Linked DNA regions of Homo sapiens: regions 1, 2 and 4 are each linked to region 3. Evidence: fine-mapped expression QTL. A gene starts in region 3. Each other region holds a variant in brackets. All regions are shown on one strand. Distances are from middle to middle.

Region 1 (5,144 bases), 20 kb after region 3:
CAGCGAGGGAAGCTGCTGACCCCTGAACACACAGAGAAGCCAAGGCCAAGCAGGTTGAAGACAGGCAGTCCCTAGCCTCTAGCCCTCCTGGCTATACCACAAACGTGGACATCAGACTGAGCAGAGCAGGCCAGTGGCCAAGGTCAAAATTGCTTTCAATGTCCTGTCCACCAAGTGACCTGTGGACCTAGCCTGCCTCTCTGGGGAGGGACATTCCAAAGACAACCAGCCACCTTCTCTCTGCCCTCCCCACCTCATCAGGCCTCCGGCCCTGGGTATGTGGGCCTCCCCCCACATCCCTGGAGCCTGGCACAGCCTCCCTTTGGATACTCACCATGGGTGGACAGCTGGGACCAGCCTTCCCCATAAGGGAAATTCTAGATCCCACCAAATTCCAAATTCCATGGCCTTATCTGGCACCATTCTGTCTGGCCTTTCATGGGTTTCCTTGTGTGGGAGGAAGGACCTCCCGCCCACAGAAAGATTATGGGGCAGGGAAGCAGGGAAGTGGGGGTTCCCCACCTTCCCACCACTCAAGCTCCCTGGATGTGTCACAGACTTGTACCATGGCTGGAACACACAGGTTGTTTATATGGAGAGCAGCCAGGAACAGGGATTTGGGGTGTGGCTGGGGGTAAAGACAATGGGCTTGACAGCAGCAAGCCACCTCCATGGTGAAGTCATTGTCCCATTTAACCCTGTCAGAGCAGAGATGCTACAGCAAGGCAAATCACTTCCTCTCTCTGAGCCTCAGTTTCCCTGTCTGTTAAATGAGGGGGTTGGACTAGTGAACCATAGGATTCCTTATATGAAAGCTATATAAGCTGTGCATCGTAAAGTCCCCTTAGCCCAGCAGCCTATAGAATTTCCTGAGGGGCAGAAGGTGCCATTGTGACACCCACTGGCCTCTTCCAAGCATTTCCTGCTGGGCACCCTAAAAATACAGTAGGGGTGAGGTGGGGGTTGGCGAGAGTATGGGCTCGGCCATTGCTAGAGTCGTCATTTCACACATCAGCAAACGTGCCTCTGGAGGGAGTGCTCTCGCACTGAGCTTGGCGTGGCTGGCTCCTTGTCATCCAGGTCTCGGCTCCAATGGCCCCTCCCCAGAGAGTCCTTTCCTGGCCCCCTGCCTCTTTTACTCTTCTTCCAGCACTTCTTGCCATCTGGAATGGTTGTTTGAATACAGACTTATGTGTTGACTCCCCAGCCTGGGAGCGCAGGGCTGTGTACGCTCAGCAATGTACCCTAAATGCTCAGAACGGTGCCCAGCACACGGTGGGCCCTTGTGAACAGGTGCTTAGCAAACGAAAAACCACAATCGTACGTAAAAATCTTAAGAGTTTTTTTTTTTTAATGCACATGCCTGGCCTTTACCCTAAAGGTTCTGGTTTAGGGACTGTGGGCCAGGTTTGGGCATATGAATTTTGACAAAACACCCCAGGTGATTCTGTGGCACACTTATGTTAAAAAGAGACTAGCTTGGTCATTCTCAACCTTAGCTGGACAATGGGATCACCTGGCACCTAGGTCCCACCCAGAGATCCTGACTTAATTGGTCTTGGGTTCTGGCCTGGCCGTCAGGATCTTTAAAAGTCCCCCAGGTGGTCCTCTTGTGTAGCTGAGGTAGAGGACCCTGGAACCTGAGGATCTCCAAGGCCTCTCTGATCCAAAATTCTGCATTCTTGGAAAGCCCTGCAAGGTTAAGCCACTTGTTCCACACAGCAAACTGAATTCTCAAATGGGGAAACCTCCTTGTTGAACCCTCCTGCAAAGATGAAGAAAGGGATACCCTTTTTGACCCTCATAGATGAGTTGAAAGCATTGCCAGAAGCCTTGTGGCCCATCTCCGATGACTGCCCAGGAACTCCCAGGAATGGCCTGTGGCTCTGTGCACAGCCCCCCAGCACCTCCTTTTCCTGGCAAGCCAGCTGAGCTGTGTCAAAACCTATCTCATCTCCTCCTCTGATAGCACACAGTTTTAAATAAGATCTTCATTTACCAGAAGTTCACACCACCGCGTATGTGTTATATGAGAAGTAGCAATCTTGTGTTCATGAGGGAAATGCAGTCAGGGAGGGTGGAGGAGAGCCGATTGCAGAGGGAGTGCACAAGGAGGGAGGAACTCGTGGAACCTGAGCTGGTGGCCCAGCCCCGGCCCCAGCCCCAGCCCTGGCAGTGCCATGCTCCTCTTGGCTCAGCACGGGGCTGGAGGGGGAGGGGCTCCCACTTTGCAAGCTGACCTCAGCTGCTGGAAGGCTTGGAGCAAATGGGCATGTGATGTCACCGTGAGCTCCGCCAGTTGGCAGCCCTGGCCTTGCTTTGGGTCATTTACATGTCTTCAGTTGGTTAAGAAGGAGCTCTTACTGCCGATTTATTAGTTGCCGCCTGCCTAGCCTTGGTAGCTGTGATAAGGAAGGGGTTTAGGGGCCATGGATGGATGCCAGTCCCCCATGGCCATGCTGCCTCACTTCCCAGCACAGCCTGCCATGCAGCATGTCAGTGAATAAACCAATTCCAGTAGGATGGGGCTTGACAGTTTCCAGGGTGTTCTCATGCAGTCCTCCCAACCACTCTGTGAGATGGGCATGATTACCTTGCTCGTGGAGAGGAAGAAACCAAAGCTCAGGGAGCTTGAGTGCCTTGTACACAAAGCTGCGACCTTACTCCAGGATTTCTGCCAGCTGTGTCTGCACCTGATGGGGGACTTGTGGGCAGGTCGCTGTCCCTCTGAATGTGGTCTGCAGTATTTCTACTTCCACAGCACTTGTCCATTCTGATGGCCTAAATGCCAAGAGAACAGGGATCAAGGACCAGTGTGCCCTGTGACCTTGAGCAAGGTTGTTTCTGCCTCAGACCTCAATTTTCCCAAAGGTAAAGCAAGAGTTGGACTGGGTGGTCTTCCAGGAAGGTAGGACCCCTCGGCTTTTCGTTGCAGGTTTTCAAGTGTGTCCTAGCACCGAGGAGATGAGGATCCTGAGGTGGCCCCATCCCGGGGTCCTGAGGTGGCCCCATCACGGGGTCCACAGTACAAGGTCAATGCACTTGTAATAAATATTGAGCCAACCAATGCTGAGCCGCATCCCTAGCCTCTGAATAAATAAAATGTTGCCCAGAA[T/G]AACAGCCCGGAAGATGCTGGCGGCTTCAGCCAGCTCTCACCTTTGCCTCTCCCACTGGCCAAGCCTGTCACCCGTCCCTATACTCCCTTGTCTCCCCCTTCCCTCTGCCTCCCCACTCCACGGTCCATCACTCTAGCTCCAGAGGTGGCCACCGTCCCAGCCTGGCTTTAGTTTCTAGCTCTGCAGCCTGCATCTCCCTCTCCCAGCCCCTCAGCTGCCACAGCAGTTAATGAGGACCAACCCCTACAGATGGCAGCTGGGAGACAGGCCAGCCAGGTTCTGGTGGGGCTGGGGTGGGGCACAGGGAACTGGAGGTGGGGCACAGGGGAGTGTGCCTTTAATCCCCAGCACCAGACAGAAGCCTTTCCTTCTTTGTCAGGACCCTTGCTGGCATTTCCTCCTGCAGCCCATCCCTGGGAGATGAACTGGTCCAACTCCTGCAGGAGGCCAGCCCACTCTAACTGCTCTTGGCTGAGGCCGCCAGGAGATTAGAAACAGGGTCCACAAAGGAACCTGGTCCCAGGGTGCTCCAGGCCACACAGGCACACTTGATTTGATGCTTCTCTGCCTGATGAGTGTGCAAGTACAGTTATATGTGTTATATGGCTCCCTTCTTTTTACGGTTCAAGTTTCTCAGGGGCAGAGCCGGTTAGGTCAAGTGTGAAGTTACAAAATGTTAGCACTGAAGAGATATCTTCCTCATTTTATAGATGAGGAAATTAACCTCGGGGGTGGGGGGCGGAGATAAGGACACTTGCCCAGGGTCACACAGCCAGGAAGCAGCAAAAGAGCCTGGATTTGGAGCCTGATTAGGGCCTGTGCCCTTGGCCCGCACTTGACACCGCCCCCTCCAGGGGCTTTTGCTGGGGCCCTCACGGAGATGAGGCTTCATTCTTGAGATTCAGGCCTGGCCCAGAGAAGTCCAAGCCAGGGAATCGAAGCTTCTTGGTCCCAAGGTTTATGGACTGCCCTGGGGAAACAGTACCCCATCGGAAAACCTGCTCTCTGCTCTATGAAAAGGACCTTCACCATGTTGTGGGGTTTCACTGAAAAGTATTCTGGGGACCAGCATAAGAAGCAAAGCCCCTTGTATGACCTTCCTTTGGTCTGTCAAGCTGTGTGAGAACCAGCAGGGAGCCCCTGGGGTGGGAAGCTCAAAGCCCCAGGCAGAACACACCTTCCCTTTGCAAGGCACTTTCTAGATGGAATCCCTGGGGAGAAGCCTAATAGCTCAGTGCAAGAGGCGTGTGGGGTTTCATCCCCATTCTACAGGTGAGAGCACCTAGATGCAGCTAGAATACTTGGCCAGAGTCTTGTGGCTAAGACAGTTCCCCAGCCAGTTCCAGGCTGCTGGGTCTGGGGGCCCTGCTGCCTTGTTAGGAACTTGGGAGACTTGGAAACCTGGGCCTCTCTTCCTCTGCTCTATTTGCAGAGGTCCCAGGGTCATTCTGAACACATCAGGGAGACTCATCCTAAAAGCTGGGTTGAGGGGACAGGATTTGGCATCCAGATCCCCTCCCCAGCAGGCCAGATAGATTCCCACTGGTCTCCTGGCCCAGAAGGAGAGGCCAGCCCTTCCCACCCCCAGCGCCCAGGGGGGCCCCTCCTCCCCCGGCCTGGCTGCAATGCCGGGCCCCTATTGCAGGACTCGCTGCCGCTGCCTCTGACTCTGCCTCTGCCTCTGCCTCTGCCTCTGACAGACATCCCGCCCCAGAAGATAAGGATCCTGTCTGGCGCCGGAGTGCTTTTTTTCCTCCTTCTTTCCAAATCTGTTCCCTGATTATCTGCAGACAGCCCCTCGCTAGGGGAGCCACCAGGGAAGGGGCCCAGACCACAGAGAAAGACAGGAGGGGTGGGACTAACAGGCCTGCAGCCACCAGCCCTTCTGAACCCCTCTGGGGGCTTGATGGTCATTTGCTGAGCCCCCACTGTAGCCAGAGCCCTGAACTCAGCAGAGAGCTGAGGACTGGTTTCCCTGGGTGGGACTGACCCACTTCAGCGGGAAGAAGAGGGTATGTGGACTGGAGG
Region 2 (5,144 bases), 33 kb after region 3:
AGCAGCACTGTGCAGTGAAACTTCTTGCAGGGATGGGGACGTCTTCTGCCTGCACTGCCCAGTCTGGTAGCCACTAGCCACACGTGGCTATTGAGCACTGGAAATATGGCCAGGGTGATGAAGGAACTGAACTTTTAATTTTAATTAAAGTTTAAACAGCCACATATGGCTAGTGGCCACTGTGTTGGATGGCACAGCTCTGAAGGCTTCTGGGAAGATGCCATCCATCAAGTGCCCAACACCAAGGTTCTCAGCCAGGGTTAGTTCCCTTCCCTGTTCCCCGGGGGGCTTGGGAAGCCTTCGCCACCCCCTCCTCAGAGGCCACCCCACCTGGATGGCCAAGGTTGGAGAGACTAGACAGTCCAGGGTGGGCTGGAAGGAACATGGAGGAAAATCAGAACCACAGCTACAGGGATCACCTAAGGTCACTGGGTGAATACTACTTTTAAAATCTCTTCTGTGCCTCGTGATAATAACATTGGTTGAGTTCTAACCAAATACCAGGCACTGCGTGAAGGACCTTATGTATCAGGCTGCTTAACCCTTGGAGCTAACCATTGTTCTCCATAGTTTATAATTGAGTACACCGAGGCCCAGAGAGATGAAGCAACTTGCCCGAGGTCACACAGCTGGTGTGTGGTAGTGCCAGGATCTGCACCTGGGTGTGTCTGTCTGCAGAGACTGTGCCCTTTGTACAAGCCCAGGTCTCTCCATTTATTTAGCCATCACCTATTCTGCTGTATCTAGTACTGGGCCAGGCATCTTTAGGGACAGAGAATTGTGCAACACAAGGTTCCTGCCCTCTTAGTCTCCTTGGAGGAACTCCCTGCACAACACGCCCACAACAGAAATGATGCAGGGTGCCCCCAGGCATAATCAGCATGAGACTCTGAGCCCTGGCCTTCACAGGGTGGTGGCAGGTTCATCCCTACAGCCTGGGCCAATGCCTGCTGGGTAAGGGTGGCCCCCCACCCCAGGGCCACTCAGGCATTATGACGACACCCTAAACTTGGGTGTTAAGGTTTGGTTATAATCTCCTAAGATGACACCTAGCCCCTGGGACGTTGCCTGGCACTGCAGAAGGTTTACAGTAAATATCAGTTGGGTGAATGGCCTCTAGTGTTCCAGTGAGCCAGGCAGAAGAGTCATATCCTTCTTACAGAGGGCACAGATCTGGAGGAACCTGGAGACTTGCCCTAAGTTTGCCCCTACTCAGGCCCCTGCTTCTTTCTGAGGCTAGCCGGGGAGCAGGTGGAAGGAAAACACTCAGCTTGCATACGTAGAGAGGCAAGTCATAAATATCACAACCTCCAAGAGGAGAGGAGGGAGGAGGGAAGGCGGATCCTGAGAGCTAGGATGTCCGCTTCCGAGAACCCGCGATCTGCAGCCGCTGCCAGCAAGGTCCTGCAGGTCCTAGGGACACCCTGTGTGCATGCATGCATGCCTGTGTGCGCCGAACTGGTTGGCGGCGGGGGCGTGCTGGCGTGCTTGTGTGACTGTGGGCGACCATGGCACGCAGACCGCCTCCAGCTCCCGCTGGCCCTCCCCAACCCACTTCTCAGTTCTCCAGCAGCCAGATGTCTCCCAGATGTTCCTCACTTCCTGCCTGGCTCCGTGCAGTGCATGTGTGTGTTTATTTTGGACAGGCCACTAAATAATAACCATTTTAAGAAAAGCTTTTCAAAACCTCGTTCCCACGAGGAATCAGAGTTCAGGAAATAATCCCAATTCTATTCACTATTGTCCCCGGGCTCCCTTCTCTGACCTCCTCTCCCCCAACCCTGGGGACCACTTTTGAAAAGATTTCTTTTTATCCTACATGACGTGTGCTCTCTCCATAACACCATCTCTCTGGGAGCTAGGGCTTAGAGCTGGGAGCCCCTTAGAGCTTTGCTACCAGCATCACCTGGAAGCTTGTTAGGAATTCGAGGCCTCAGCACTGTCCCAGACCACAATCAGTCTGCGTTTTGACAAGATCCCAAGGTATTCGCACCTACATTCGCGTTTACC[G/A]TGAGCCTAGCTCTGTCTTATTGATGGGGTAATGGAGGCTGAGTCTGGCAGGGGGGACCCTTCTATCAGGTCTTCTTTAGCAGAATCCCAGTAGGGCCTGGTGGTACAGACTGAGAGGCCCTGAGCCCTCAGAGCTTGGGGTCTGAACTGTCCTTCTGGGTGGGCTGGCGGGGAGAGGCAGCCCAGCTAGTCTCTGATGTGGGGAGGCAAAGGGGTGGATTCATCCAGAGAATATGCCACCTCATCCCTGGTAGCCAGCATGGCCACAGACTAGGTCCCATGCCAGCCTCGCCGTGCCACATGGCCACTAGGTTTGGGCCAGTCCTAGATCTGCTCTGTGGGCTCCTGTGAGTCCCTGCTCCACCCACAGCTGCCCTCTGGAGATGGGTCTGGCCCTCCCTGTCTATTCTGTAGGCACTCTGGGTGCTCAGGTGGGGTGCCACAAGCTGGTGTCCTCCCGTTCCATTGTGACCCGGCTTGTCATCCTGCCTCCTGTGAAAATAGAGCAAATCGTATCAGCTCTGTTGGTCTCAGGGCAGTCCCAAGGACACGGGGCTGTGACTTACTGGTGATACACCGCCAGCACCCTCCTCATTTCTGGGCGTCATGGCTCCCTCCTCTCTGTATCTGAGCGAGGGTGTGCGGAAGGCCTGGCACACCTGGCTGGAGGTGGAGGTGGGGGCGGCCCCGAGAGAACTGAAGCTCAGGCTGTCCTCAGGCAGCTGGTGGCTTAGCTGGGAAACAAGACTCCCGCCTGTGGAAGCCTAAGGAGAAACCAGCCCCCAGTTCAGAAGCCCAGCAGTTGGTGAAGGCTGCCCTCGGTAAGGGAGACCTGGTAGGAGTTCATTCGTCAACAAGACTGGCGTGGCTTGGGGGGCTGCATACTGTACGCTGGGAGAGGTATGACGCTGAGGAGGCATGGAGGTCCCAGAAAGGCGGAGGACCCCAAGGGGAGAGGATCCGAGAGGTTCCTTCCAGAAGGATGGCTTTGTGGCTCTCCACACCCAGGGGCAGGTGAGATCACAGTGGGGTGGGGGGCCAGGATGGTAGGGGAGCCCACCTGAGGGAGGTGGGGCTGAATCAGGGAAGCACCCTGTGGGCTCTCTGAGCTCCCTCTCTGCACAGGGACCAAGCTGTGGGTCAGAGTCCTACATATTCAATATCTATTCACCAACAATCAGTGGGTACAGGATTGGTGAGTGACTGGGTTGAGGGAAGGAAGAAGGGAGGGAAGTGAGGGAGGGAGGGACAAACTGACAGTTGGATGGGTGGCTGGATAAGTAGATGGAAGGAAAGGAGGAAGGATGAACAATGAATATAATCACCCCAGCGCTCCACATCTGTCAAAACCCTTTCAGAGCCAGCCACATTCTTTTGATCCCACACCCATCCTTTGAAGGAGATAAAGCTGAGACTATATTCGTAGTGTCAATAAGACTAAGACCCAGGCCAGAGAGGGGAGCAGAGGGCGGCTGACCAGCCGGCAGGCTCCCTCTGGGGCGACCACTTCTTTAAACACTCCGGGTTCACGGTGCTCCCTGAAGCAGGGAGGGCTTGGCACTGAGTCATTCACACTCCCTTGCCCACTCCCTGTGTGACCAGAGCCCCACCCTGAAGCCGTCCAGGACCTGTCTGATCACGCCCCTGCTACCTGGAGAATGTCAGCGCCAGGAGCTTTCAGCCTCCAGCCTTTGCCCAGATTCCAGTGCAAACCAAATGAGGAAGTGCATGACCCAGGTTGTTCACTGGGGCCGTGTGCAGGCCCAGCAGCATTGTCCAGGAAGCTCACTACTGAGCAATAATAGACCACCAGCTTATTCACAGAGGTTCCTTGAGACAATAGGATAGTAAAGGCCTATCCCTGCCCTGAAGGTGCCTATGGAGTCAGAACAGAGAGGTCACTCAGAGGTGACAGCATCTTGGGCTGCAGAGTGAACATCCAGAACATCAGGGAAGGCTCCCTGGAGCAGGTGCCATTGGCACTGGGTGTACAGAGAGGGCCATGGCTGTAGGGAAGGCACTGTTCCATCTACCCAGCCTTGCAGCAGTCCCCTCCACCCCTGCCCCTACCTGGCTAACATGCGGAGAGGAGAGGTGATTCAGCAGGCCTGGCTTGTTTCTTTCTTGCCCACTGAGGCCTCGCTGTTGGACAGGCTCCCAGACGTTGCAGTCAGCTGGAGGCCTCACCTTCTGAGCTCCCAGACCTGACCCTCTGCACTTTAACCTGGCACCCTGGCCCCAGCTGAGTTGGACTGTTTCAGGAGTCTGAGTCTGGGCCTTCCTCAGCTGTACACCCCCAGTCCCCAGGCCCCAGCATGGATGTGAGCGAGCCACAGCACCCACACTGGGACCTTTGCATGGTTGGGAGTTCTGTGCCATAGAACAAAGAGAAACCAGGCAGTGAGTTCTATAGAAATCAGACCGGGGGCTAAGGGAAGACATGCTTCCTTTTTTGCTTTGCCCTGGGATGTAGGACCCAAGTGAAGTAAGGCTCCCTAGTGATTTGGGGGTCTTACTTGTGTCCTTGAGACCTGGAAAACCCTCTCAAGGCCTCAGGGAAAAGGAGAAAGGATGGGAATGCCGCATCTGCCTTTGGCAAGCTGCTGATTCACCTCCTCCTATGTGGCCTTTACTTTCCTACTCTGTATAATGGGTAGGAGTGGACTCAATTGCCCCCTTCTCTCTCCCCTTTGCCAAAGCCTCTGACTTCTAGCACTGCCTTTCCAGGCTTGTGGTATCTCAGGGAAGGAGATACTGGTTTCACCCTGGGAACCATCCAAGCACCCAGGTCCCTGGTACCAGCTCTCAGCTCTTTGATAGCAGTCTTGGGGCCTCCCTGGGTCCTGTCTCTGAGGAGCAGAAGAGGAGTTGAGCTCCCCCCACTTGCTTCCACCTCTCAGGTAGGCAGCCTTGCCTCTGGCCTTGGCAGCACTTTCCCAAGCAGGGACGCCCTGGGAGCCTATACGGCCAGGAGGGAGGCAATACACACAGCGCCCTGGAGAAAAGCCCCCCGCACCTCCAGAGCAGAATGAGCTAGCGGGAGGCAGGGAGAAGGGGGGCCCACTTTCCCCTTCTTCCCCTGAGTTGGCACTTTTCTCTTTGAGTGTTAAACTCAGCTCTTCCTTTTTCTCCTA
Region 3 (5,144 bases):
CTCCAGTCCCCCTTCTCTCCACCCAGGAATTAAAGCCGTGAAACCTGATACTTGGACTAGAAGGGCCTGCTGGGTACACTTTACCACCTAAACAGCAAAGTTCCAAGGGGTGGAACTTTTTAGAAAAATCTCCAATACCCCACTGGCCTGAAGGAGAGAGAGAAAGAGGTTGGGGAGAGAGAGAGAACATGCTGTGGTCTCTGCATGCTGCCCGTCTCTGCTGAGGTCCCTGCTGAGCTCTCCAGCACAGGCACAACCTTGACCATGTGCCTGCATCCAGGGGATGACCGTCAGATGTGGGTCTTGGCACAGGCGTGCCTGTATGTGTTTCCTGGCAGTAGTTAAGTATCCAAATATCTATTTGTCTTGGGAGTCATCTGCCTATTTGTGTTTTTAGTTGTGTGCGCCTGTGTGTTTGCTTTTTTTAGGCATACATCTTTGGTATGTGGGTGTCTCTGGAGTCGGGTGCCTATTTGTAGGTGTGATGTTTATGGGAGGTGAAACATTGCACCTGTTGTCTTTGTTGTATGTTTTCGTGTGTGTACCTTTGCAGGTGTGTATGGGTGGGTAGTTGTGTGTGTGCATGTGTATTTGCAAGGTGGAGTTGGTTTGGGTGTGCTGAGCTGTTGACTGTCTCATCCACTGCCCTTGCTAGGGCTGTCAGAGGCCAAGCTAAGCAACCTACCTTTGCCCACAGCAGCCTTTCTCAATTGATGGAAGTTCTTCCCCCAGGGAGTCCCAGTCCACCTGTTGCCACCCTCCTGATGCTGGGTGCCCAGTCAGAGAGGGTTAGGGAGATGTGCTGATGGCATGCACGACCTCCCCTAGATACTCCAAGACCCCGGCTTGTGAGGGGAGTGTGTGTGGAGAGGGTACTAGTCCTGCCTTCACCTCACCTCTGGGGAAACAGCTAGGACAGTCCCCTTCGCACAGCCCAATCCAGCCCCAGGGAAGGTGTTCAAGTGAGGCTCCCCCGTTTAGAGGGTTTCTTTCCAATCCCATCTCCCCCATCCCCTTTGCTCAGTCACTCAGTCACTCCAAGCAGTGTGATCTCCGGCAGGTGGCTTTACACCTCTGTGCCTCAGGTCCTTCATCTGTAAAATGGGATGTAAATGGTGCTTACTTCAGAGGGTTGTGAGAATTAACTGACATGATGCATACAGAGTGCTTAGCCCTGTGCCTGGCACAGGGAAGGTCTTTGCCTATGTTAGCTGATCCGCTCGTTCTGATCTCTCTGGGTTTCAATCCCAAGACACTGCCCATCCTTCAAACCTCACCTGTCCCCACGTGCTCCTTGGACCACCTTTGGGTGGTCAGGACTTTCCCCCTGGAATCAGACTGGCTGGGAGGGGAGAATCTTGGAAAGAGATTATTGACACTTGCACTGCAATTTCCACACAAGTTTTAAAATTTAATTCTATACCCCCTTATGAAATAGTTATCCTTTTCCTCCATTTTACAGATGATGATGAAGGGAGCAATAGAATTGTTAAGTAACTTGTTCAAGGTCACACAGTAAATAAGGGGCAGAGTCCAAGTTTACACTGAGCCAAAAATGGCTGTCCCACTGTCAGGTAGGAGGCTAGTTTACAACAACGCAGGATCAGAGTGCTGGAGGGGTTTCCAGGGGTCTGGTTAACAGTTCTGCCGGAGATCATACAGACAAGCAGAGCCAGCCAGGATGATCCTAATCTATACCCAGCTTCATATCGCTGTAAGCCCCCGCGTAACCAGGACTTGGGTGTTCTCATTTTGGGAGCCTTTTTTTTGGAAAGACCCCCACATGTGGAAGGCAGAGCGCATACTACAGACAGGGGAGCCAAAAGTGAGAGTCCTATGTTTAATCAGAGGAGAAAGCTGACATGGCCAAGCCAAATGAAGGCGCAAAGCCAGATTTCCTTAATTTGGGGGAGCGAAAATTGGGCCGCCTCCACGTCCAGCCATTCTCCAGCGGCCGGGTTTTTCAAAACGCTGCGCCCAGCGTCTCGCGAGGACCCTCCCCCCGGGTCCCCCAGCTCTGCCGCGGCCGCGCCCAGATGGCCGTCGGATCCCCCCTCAAGGTCCCCCTGTCGGCTCCGCCCTCGGTCGCCCAGGCCCCGCCCCGGCCGCGCGCGGTCCCCTCGGTTGGCGAACTCACTCCGGCGAGCGAGCGGCGGCGCTCGGCATTGTGGCAGGCGGCTGGGGCCGGCTAGGGCGCCGGAGCCGCACGCAGCCGCGGGGCTCCGAGAGGCGCGCACTGGGGCTGGGACTGCGCGGCGCCGCCGCTGCGAGCGCCACTGAGCGGTCGCGCAACTTCGGAGGCACAGCGCCGGAGCCAGGCGAGCGCTCAGAGACCCGGAGCCAGAGGGGCGCGCCGGAGCCTCGTTCGAGAGCCGGCGCCAGGCACCCACCGCGCTCCGAGTGCCAGGCGGCCCTCCGCGCAGCGTGGCTTCCGCTGCCCCCACGGAAGGCACGGGCTGGCGCTGCCGGGCGCCGGGGAGGACGGCGAGGAGGAGGCGGCGGCGGCGGAGACGGCGGCGGCGAGACTGGGGCCAGGGAGACAGCCCTGGGGGAGAGGCGCCCGAACCAGGCCGCGGGAGCATGGGGGCCCGGAGCGGAGCTCGGGGCGCGCTGCTGCTGGCACTGCTGCTCTGCTGGGACCCGAGGCTGAGCCAAGCAGGTAGGAAGCGATCGGGTCTGGGGGCGCGGGGCTAGGGGACCCTTGCGCCTCACTCTGTCCTGAAGTTGAGGTGGTCTTTCGTCGCATCGATGCGCGCAGGAAAAGCGGCAAGGGCGCCCAAGTTAGAATGTAGATTTTACTGCCTCCCAAAGTGGGCAATGGCGCATCCACATCGCGGGAGCGGGGAGCAGGGAAGGGGCTTCACAGTAAGCTGAAAGGTCCCTGCTCGCTCCTGAAAGGGATCCCTTCTTCTCCCTGGAAGGGGTGTAGGAGTCAGGGTCTGAGTCTCCGGGAGGATCCGCCTCCTGGGGACGCCCGGCTCTCCGCGCGCCTGGCATCCGCCCCGAAAAAGAACATTGGCTACATAAGCAAGGTGTGCGCTCGCTGCCGTACGCCGGTAACTTACTAGTCTGGTCCCGGCTCGCCTAGGCTCTTACGCGCTATAGGGACAGCAATCTGCAGACTAGAGGGAGAGAGCGAAAAGACCTGCTGAACACAGGAAGCGCTTCGGTAGCCTCGGCAGGCCGGCTTGCAGGGCTCCTGAAGCGGGGAGGGCTAAGTCTTGCACACATAGCTTTCCCCGAGATCGCTGGGCCCGCAGGTCTGGAAGAATTATTATTATTATTATTATTATTATTATTATTAATTTTCTGAGTGTTGGAGAGTGTGTGTGTGTGTGTGTGTGTGTGTGTGTGTGTTGGATGCGGGTAGGGGTTCTTAGCGATCCTGCGGAGTTTCCTTTTAAATTGGTCACTGACATTCTCGCTGTCCGGGGAACAGACTAGGTGCGCTCTCCTTGGTACAGCGCCCGCTCTGGACCCACCAAGATGACTTCAGCGAACTGGTGGGCTCCGAAATAAAGTCCCTAACCCTCCTCTCTCGCCGTGGATGAATACGTTTCTCGCTCGTCCTGTAGCTGGACCCGGCGTCGCTGGCTGGGCTGCGTCTTCTCGGGGAGGCTGTGGACTGAATGGAGCCAGCCTCTCTCTGGTACCCGAACCCAAGCAAGTGGGCTGGCCACGGCTGCCGGGCGGCTCGGCTCCGGAGCCAGGTGGGGACGGGGCCTCCTGCACGGAGTCCTCTCTGAGTTGAGGCTGAGAATGGAGCAGGAAAACTGGAGCAGAAAGTGGACGAGATGACGCAGCCCTCCCCACCTCCTACCTCCTGCTGCGAAGTTGACATCCGCCCTTCCCCCCTCCATAGCCAAAGATTCCTCATTCTGGAATTAGTGATTCCCACGGCCAGGAGTGAGGGCTTGGCTTTAGCACATTCCCCACTTTTTTTTTTTTTTCTGGTGCAAGTCCTGTGCAGTAGAGTTACAACACTCAACCATTTGATCCAAGTTAATTATGATTTGGGCAGACTCTGGTATTTAAAGCAGTGTTTTGAAGTTGGAAGGTAATGATGGGGATGGGGAAGGCAGGCTGCTGAATGTCCAACCTTGTTTTAAAGGGTGCAGTTAGACGTGGGAGGTGCTTGGTTGGGGTGCTGGTTTCTGGTTGGAGGGGGTTTGAGGAGATGATTGAAGGGTAGGGTGAAGTCTCTGTAAATGGCACATGGGCAGGGTTGTGTCTTGGGAAGCTGCTTTTGTACCAGCAGGACAGTGGGATCAGGAATAAATACTTAGGTTACCAGGAATGAGGGGCTGCTGTAGGAGAAAGACAAGACTGGTTGGCCTATAGTTCTCTGGGTGGGTGGGCTTGGCCAAGAAGGCTGGGGGTGGCCTGCATTTCCTGCTTAACAAAGCATCCAGCCCCCACCTTCCCCAGAAGAAACCCCAGGCCCAGGGCTTTGATGGATTTGGGCACGAATGGTGCCCAGTCAGAAATGGCCTCTAATACCCGGCTTTGATTTCTCACCAGCGAGCAGAAGCGGTGTTGGAATTGTGCTCATTACTTAGTGCGGCAGTAGCTGCCTGCCCACCAGCCTGGAGAGGGGCCAACTGGTGGGGTCGGCCTGCAGCCTTCTCATTGCCCAGAATGTGTGGCCCTTAGAAACCTGCCTTCAGGAGGGAGAACATGTCCCTTCCTCCCACACAATCTTGTTTTTCTCTAATGCCACAGGCACAGAGCATCATTCTTTCAGAATGTTCTTTGGGTTTTTCCATTGGATCCTTCACAAGCTCCATTTCACTGATGGGGAAAATCAAGGCCAGAGTGTTGGCTTTCTCCAAATCTTGCCTTCACTTGGCCACAGATTGAAGACATGTGAAGGGCTCCTGTCCAATAGCCAGACTGATTCAAGCCCAGCAGACCCTCCCTCCTATTCTTATCCACCCACCCCTCTGCCATGAGACTCATAACAGACTGAGGCAGGCGAGGCTCTCTCTGCAAAGAGGGATCTTTACTGGGGGTGTCCAAGCTCCCCTCAAGTGGCAGGCACCTCTCTCTCCTTTTCCCCACCCCACCCCATCCCTGGTGAATATGGGAATGAGCTCCCTTTACAGCACTGAGAATATTTTTAAGCTGTAAAGTCTGATGCTGGA
Region 4 (5,144 bases), 61 kb after region 3:
TTTCCAGCTCTGTAAGCAGCGTGGCCCCCATAGCCAGGCCCGGGCTCATCCCAGCACTGCACCTGCCCTGGGGCCTCGACCCCAGCCTCCCATCCACTTCTTCACCTGCCTCACAGTCCTTCGAGGGAGACGTTTCACAGGAGCAGATGGACACCCCCTTCAGGATGCAGGCCCCTGCCCCAGCTGGCCACCTTGGCGAAGCCGCTTCCTGTGACAGCAGAGGAAGTGATGTCAGGGCACAGATGGGTGCAGAGGGTGTGGGAAGAGGGCTGCGTGAGGAGCCACCTTTGTTAGGAATGACTTGGCGTCCCCCGAGCCCGCCAGCCCCCATTTGTCATCGGTAACGGCCATTGTGACCGCCTCCGAGGGGGCCCCTGCCTGAACCCCACAGCCGCAAGGAGCCAGGGCCAGATGGAGGAAGAGCTTTGTGTCCAGGGAGGGGTCCTTCCATGTGAGGTTGTGTGTTTTTAAAACATAATAATAAATTGGCTCCTCTCCCCCAACTCTCCCCACTCCCCACTGAGCACATCAGCCACGCAGTGAATGGGAGAGATTTTCCATGCAGTGGGAGGTCAAGTCTGGGGAGAATTAGCCGGTGTCCAGGGGCTAGAGAAAGACTGTGATTGCTGATGATAAATGTGCCCAGCGTGGGGCGTTTCTCTGTCCTCACCTCCCGCCTGACTCCTCCCCTCCCTGTCCTGAGCCAGTCAGCCCTGGAGACACACAGCCCTGCATGGCTACAGATGCCCACCCCTGGTGGAAGCCTGGGGGTCCCAGGCCTGTGGACAAAAGCCAGCGGTGGGGGTTTCAAGGCCTTCCCTACCAGACCACAGCAGCCTCCCTCTGAGGTCTCCGCCCTGGGCAACAGGGCTGACCGGAAGTGGACCCGGCTGAGATGGATAGCAGGAATTTCCATCCCAGGCATGGGAATCACAGAGCCCAAGCCTTCACCCACAACCCTGCCGTGGCTGTGCTGTCTTTCTGGGCCCCCTGTCCCTCCTCAGTCCTGAATCAGCAACTGGGCTCTGGTCCAGCTTGGCTGTTAATTTGCTGTGTGGTGTTGCATTAGTCACTTCCCCTCTCTGATCCGGTAGAACGCGGGGCTCCAAGGGCTCCAGGCTCTCTGAACGTTGACTTTCTGTGTCTGGTCTACGTGGGCTCAGATGGTGCCAGGCCAAGGAAACAGTCTGTGGGGCTTCTGACCTCCCACACACAGTTCAGCTAGAGAACAGCTCCTGCCTGCTGCCACTCCCAGGCACATGCACTGCCTGTTTGTTTGTTTGTTTGTTTGTTTGTTTTGAGATGGAGTCTTGCTCCATTGCCCAGGCTGGAATGCAATAGTGAGATCTCACTCACTGCAACTTCCACCTCCCAGGTTTAAGCAATTCTTGTGCCTCAGCCCCCCGAGTAGCTGGGATTACAGGCATCCGCCACCACACCCAGCTAATTTTTGTATTTTTAGTAGAGACAGGCTTTCGCCATGTTATCCAGGCTTGTCTCGAACTCCTGACCTCAGGTGATCCGCCCGCCTTGGACTTCCAAAGTGCTGGGATTATAGGCGTGAGCCGCCGCGCCCGGCCCACAGTGCTTGTTAAGAAAGATATTTGCATCTGTTTTCTCAGTTGACCTTTCACAGCAATACCCCAAAGTTGACAGAGCAGGAACTGCTAGTCACTTCTTTATAGATGGGGAAACTGAGGCTCTGAGAGGTCAAACAACCTCCCAAGGTCTCACAGTGCTGGGTGAGGCTTGGAACCAGGACTGTTGGCTCTTGGGTCAGCCTGGGCCCAGGCTCAGAGTCATGGTAAGGGCCACAGCACTCCTCTGGCTTCCCCTAGGGATAGTGACAATCTCCCTCTCAGGAATGTTGGAGCCACCCCCTCCTCTGAGAAGACCCTCTGAGAGGTACAGTGTCTTTACATTTGTCCTGAAGTCATTCCTTCGCCTCCTGGGCCCTCACTCCTGCTCATCCAGGTGGGTCAGATTCTGACACCTCTTATACAAGCTTGTGTCTCCACAGCAGGCACTGCACAGGCCCAGCCCCTGGGAAGAAGCCTACAGACGGGCACAGGGCCTGCTGTCCGACAAGCTCCACTCCACTCCTAGACGGGCGCCCTGTTGCCCATGGGGGACACCAGGAAGAACATAGTGTGTTCCCTGCCCTCCAGGAGCAGCCACCAAAACTGCAAAGGAGGCTTTGAGCTGTCTGACTCAAAACAGACTTGCCAGAAGCAGGAAGGTGCCCTCTAGACCCTAGCCTGGTCACCTCACCCTCCTGCATTTTAAATGGGTGGGTGACATGAGGAACTTGTCCATAAGGAAGCCAGCATGGAGGTGAGAGGTGCAAAACTGTGTCTTCTAGAGAATATTTGGATAAGACAGACTGGGGGACCAGGCTGCAACCTCCAGACTGGGAAGTGCACTGTTTAGTTAGAAGTGTGCTGTTTAGTTAGTTTAGAAGTTAGAATTCTAGGCTGGGTGCGGTGGCTCATGCCTGTAATCCCAGCACTTTGGGAGGCCAAGGCAGTTGGATCATGAGATCAGGAGTTCAAGACCAGCCTGGCCAAGATAGTGAAACCCTGTCTCTACTAAAAATACAAAAATTAGCCAGTTGTGGTGGCGGGT[GC/G]CTGTAATCCCAGCTACTCAGGGGGCTGAGGCAGAGAGTTGCTTGAACCCGGGAGGCGGAGGTTGCAGTGAGCCGAGATTGCACCACTGCACTCCAGCTGGGCCACAGAGCGAGACTCTGTCTCAAAAAAAAAAAAAAATAAAATAAAATAGAAATTAGAAGTCTAGCAATGGCTGAATCTCAAATTGCAGCTGTGAGTAAGGAAGGCTTTTCTAACTATTAGGTCTGTCCGAAGAAGAACCTGGCTGAGAAAAGCAGTGATGAATTCCCCATCCCCACAGGTATGTGAGTCAAGGTTGGCTGAGGAGTTGATGGGAGACGTTGGATGAGATGGCCCTTTAAGTAACTTCTATAGAGACTTCATAAAGAGGTCTCATGTAGAGACCTCATAAAGAGACCTCATAAAGAGGCAGGTAAAGGCAAATTAGAGGTGAGAGTTTGGATGGCACCCCTCGGAGGTCCCATCCAGAGGTGCTGGTGGTCATTTTGATCTAAGGCCTGGGATGGGTGGGCTGGAGCATGGTTAGGCGAGCCCAACAGTGTTTCCTCCTCCTCCTTCCCTGGGTTCTACCTACGCTCTGCTTTAGGACCACCGTATAGCAATGGCAAGGAAAGTGACCCTAATTTAAGCAAATTTGCTTTCTGAAGAAAAAAATTTACTCAACAGGACATTTTCACACATGAACAGATTCCCCATAAGGGATCTTTAAACCTCAAAGTGTTAGAAGCAGAGGAGGGCTTGAGAGACTGACTTGGCCAACCTCCTCATTTTACAGACAGAAACTCCAGGGCCTGGGAGAGAATGGCCACACAGCAATGCCAGTCCCCAGCTGGGATGCAAACCCAGGGCCTCTGCCTCCAGCGATCTTTCGTGTCCTTCATTTGACTGTCTTGTCATTACATCTGTGCAGGGATGTGTCTTCTTTCATAGCTTCTTGGCGGGATATCTGGACCATTCTTGGATGCAGCTTTAAAGGCAGGCTGCACTTTTGCAATTTAGGCCCAAACGAGTTCTACTCTTGGGAAAAAACACTTCATGTGGGAATTTTCCTGCCAGCAGGAAACCCAGATCCGGCCTGGCTGAGGCAAGAACTTCTAGGGGAGCCTGTCTTAGATGTGGTTCCTCTGTAGAGACGGAGCAGCAGGAAGTCCTGCAGAGAGGCCAGGGAGGCAGGGCTGAGAGACATGGCTCAAGCCTTGCTTCCTGCCATCGACCAGGTGACCCTTCATGTCCCTTGTTGCCCCTCGTTTTCATTTGTAAAATGGGAAGAATTGCAAGGAGTAGCACATAGTAGACCTAAATGCCCATTTCCAGTTCAGCAGAGCTCGGAAGACAGATTCTAGTATCAGATCACCTGAATTTGCCCCCTAGCGGTGCCACTTACTAGCTTTATAGCTCTATGCCAGTCACTTAAACGCTTTTGGTCTCAGTTTCCTCATCTGCACTGTGGGGATAATAATCATATCCAACTCATAGGCTTGTGGTTCCCAAACTACCTGCCAAGTTATCCCAGGGTTCATCAGCACACTCACAGGGAAGCTGTGGGATATTTTTAATGTGGGAGACACGGTAATACTAGATAGCTGTCAGACACTGCACCAACAAGTAGCTCCAGGTAGCTCAGTTTCAGCATCATATCACTCTGTTTTCCTTTATTTGGCACCATATCTTTGCAAAGCTGGGATTGTGGCACTTGAGTAACCCATGACAAACAGTAAGAATAGTGGTGTCCGCTTGGATTCCAAAGTTTGAGAAGTTGTGCAGTGCCCGACAGGTGCACACATCCCTGTTCGTAAGTCTTTGTGGCTATTAGGAATGGGATAAAAATATATTTTTTCTTTCAATTTATCCTAAGATTTTAGGATATAAATATTTACAAAGCTGTTTGGATCTAATTACCTAATACATTCCTGTTAGGGACTTCTTTTTGGCCTTGGGATAGCTTAAAAAAAATTACTGAGGCACTAAAAATCAAAACGTTTGTGCATCTCTGTCTAGGGTTATTATGGAGCTCATTGAGTTCATATGAACCACTCTCTGAGCGGCGCCTGGCAGGGTAAGCATCCAGGAACCCCGAGACCCCATTATTCTCCCACCCAGCTGGTATCCGTGCAGCCTGGCCATAGGTCGCTCTCATCTAGCCCACCTTTCAAGCCTTCCTCAGTCACTGGGGCCCAAGCCAGGGCCAAGGAGAAGTGAGGGCTCTCGTTGTTTTGGAAACAGAGTCTCACTTTGTCGCCCAGGCTGGAGTGCAGTGGTGCGATCTCCACTCACTGCAACCTCCGCCTCTCGGGTTCAAGCAGTTCTCCCACCTCAGCCTCCCGAGTAGCTGGGATTAGAGGTGCACACCACCATGCCCGGCTAATTTTTGTATTTTTAGTAGAGATGGGGTTCCACCGCGATGGCCTGGCTGGTCTCGAGCTCCTGAGCTCAGGCAGTCCACCCACCTCGGCCTCCCAAAATGCTGGGATTACAGGCGTGAGCCACTGCGCCCGGCCTACTCCCTTACTGAAGTTG

Evidence for each region. PIP is the estimated chance that this variant, and not a neighbour inherited with it, causes the effect.
Region 1: its variant is the best candidate, but not a certain one, in a credible set for the expression of UNC5B in monocytes after LPS (Fairfax 2014, PIP 0.87).
Region 2: its variant is the best candidate, but not a certain one, in a credible set for the expression of UNC5B in lung (TOPMed, PIP 0.72).
Region 4: its variant is the best candidate, but not a certain one, in a credible set for the expression of UNC5B in lung (TOPMed, PIP 0.53).

Annotation. Positions count from the first base shown.
Region 1 is chr10:71,230,309-71,235,452 of GRCh38, forward strand. All of the region lies in intron 1 of UNC5B (unc-5 netrin receptor B), which reads left to right. It overlaps LOC112268061 (a long non-coding RNA gene), which reads left to right. Exons shown (of 2, transcript XR_002957083.2): 1 at 1-5,144. Among named protein-coding and RNA genes, the nearest start is that of UNC5B-AS1, 15 kb to the left of the region's middle. RefSeq lists enhancers at 2,188-2,698, 2,744-3,497, 5,006-5,144. The variant T/G (reference allele first, on the strand shown) is at 3,116.
Region 2 is chr10:71,243,350-71,248,493 of GRCh38, forward strand. All of the region lies in intron 1 of UNC5B (unc-5 netrin receptor B), which reads left to right. It overlaps LOC112268061 (a long non-coding RNA gene), which reads left to right. Exons shown (of 2, transcript XR_002957083.2): 1 at 1-3,024; 2 at 4,738-5,144. Among named protein-coding and RNA genes, the nearest start is that of UNC5B-AS1, 28 kb to the left of the region's middle. RefSeq lists enhancers at 2,819-3,738, 3,044-4,243. The variant G/A (reference allele first, on the strand shown) is at 2,011.
Region 3 is chr10:71,210,406-71,215,549 of GRCh38, forward strand. It overlaps UNC5B (unc-5 netrin receptor B), which reads left to right and starts at 2,165. Exons shown (of 17, transcript NM_170744.5): 1 at 2,165-2,659. The coding sequence starts at 2,581. RefSeq lists an enhancer at 1,927-2,221 and a silencer at 2,066-2,325.
Region 4 is chr10:71,271,609-71,276,752 of GRCh38, forward strand. All of the region lies in intron 1 of UNC5B (unc-5 netrin receptor B), which reads left to right. Among named protein-coding and RNA genes, the nearest start is that of SLC29A3, 45 kb to the right of the region's middle. The variant GC/G (reference allele first, on the strand shown) is at 2,626.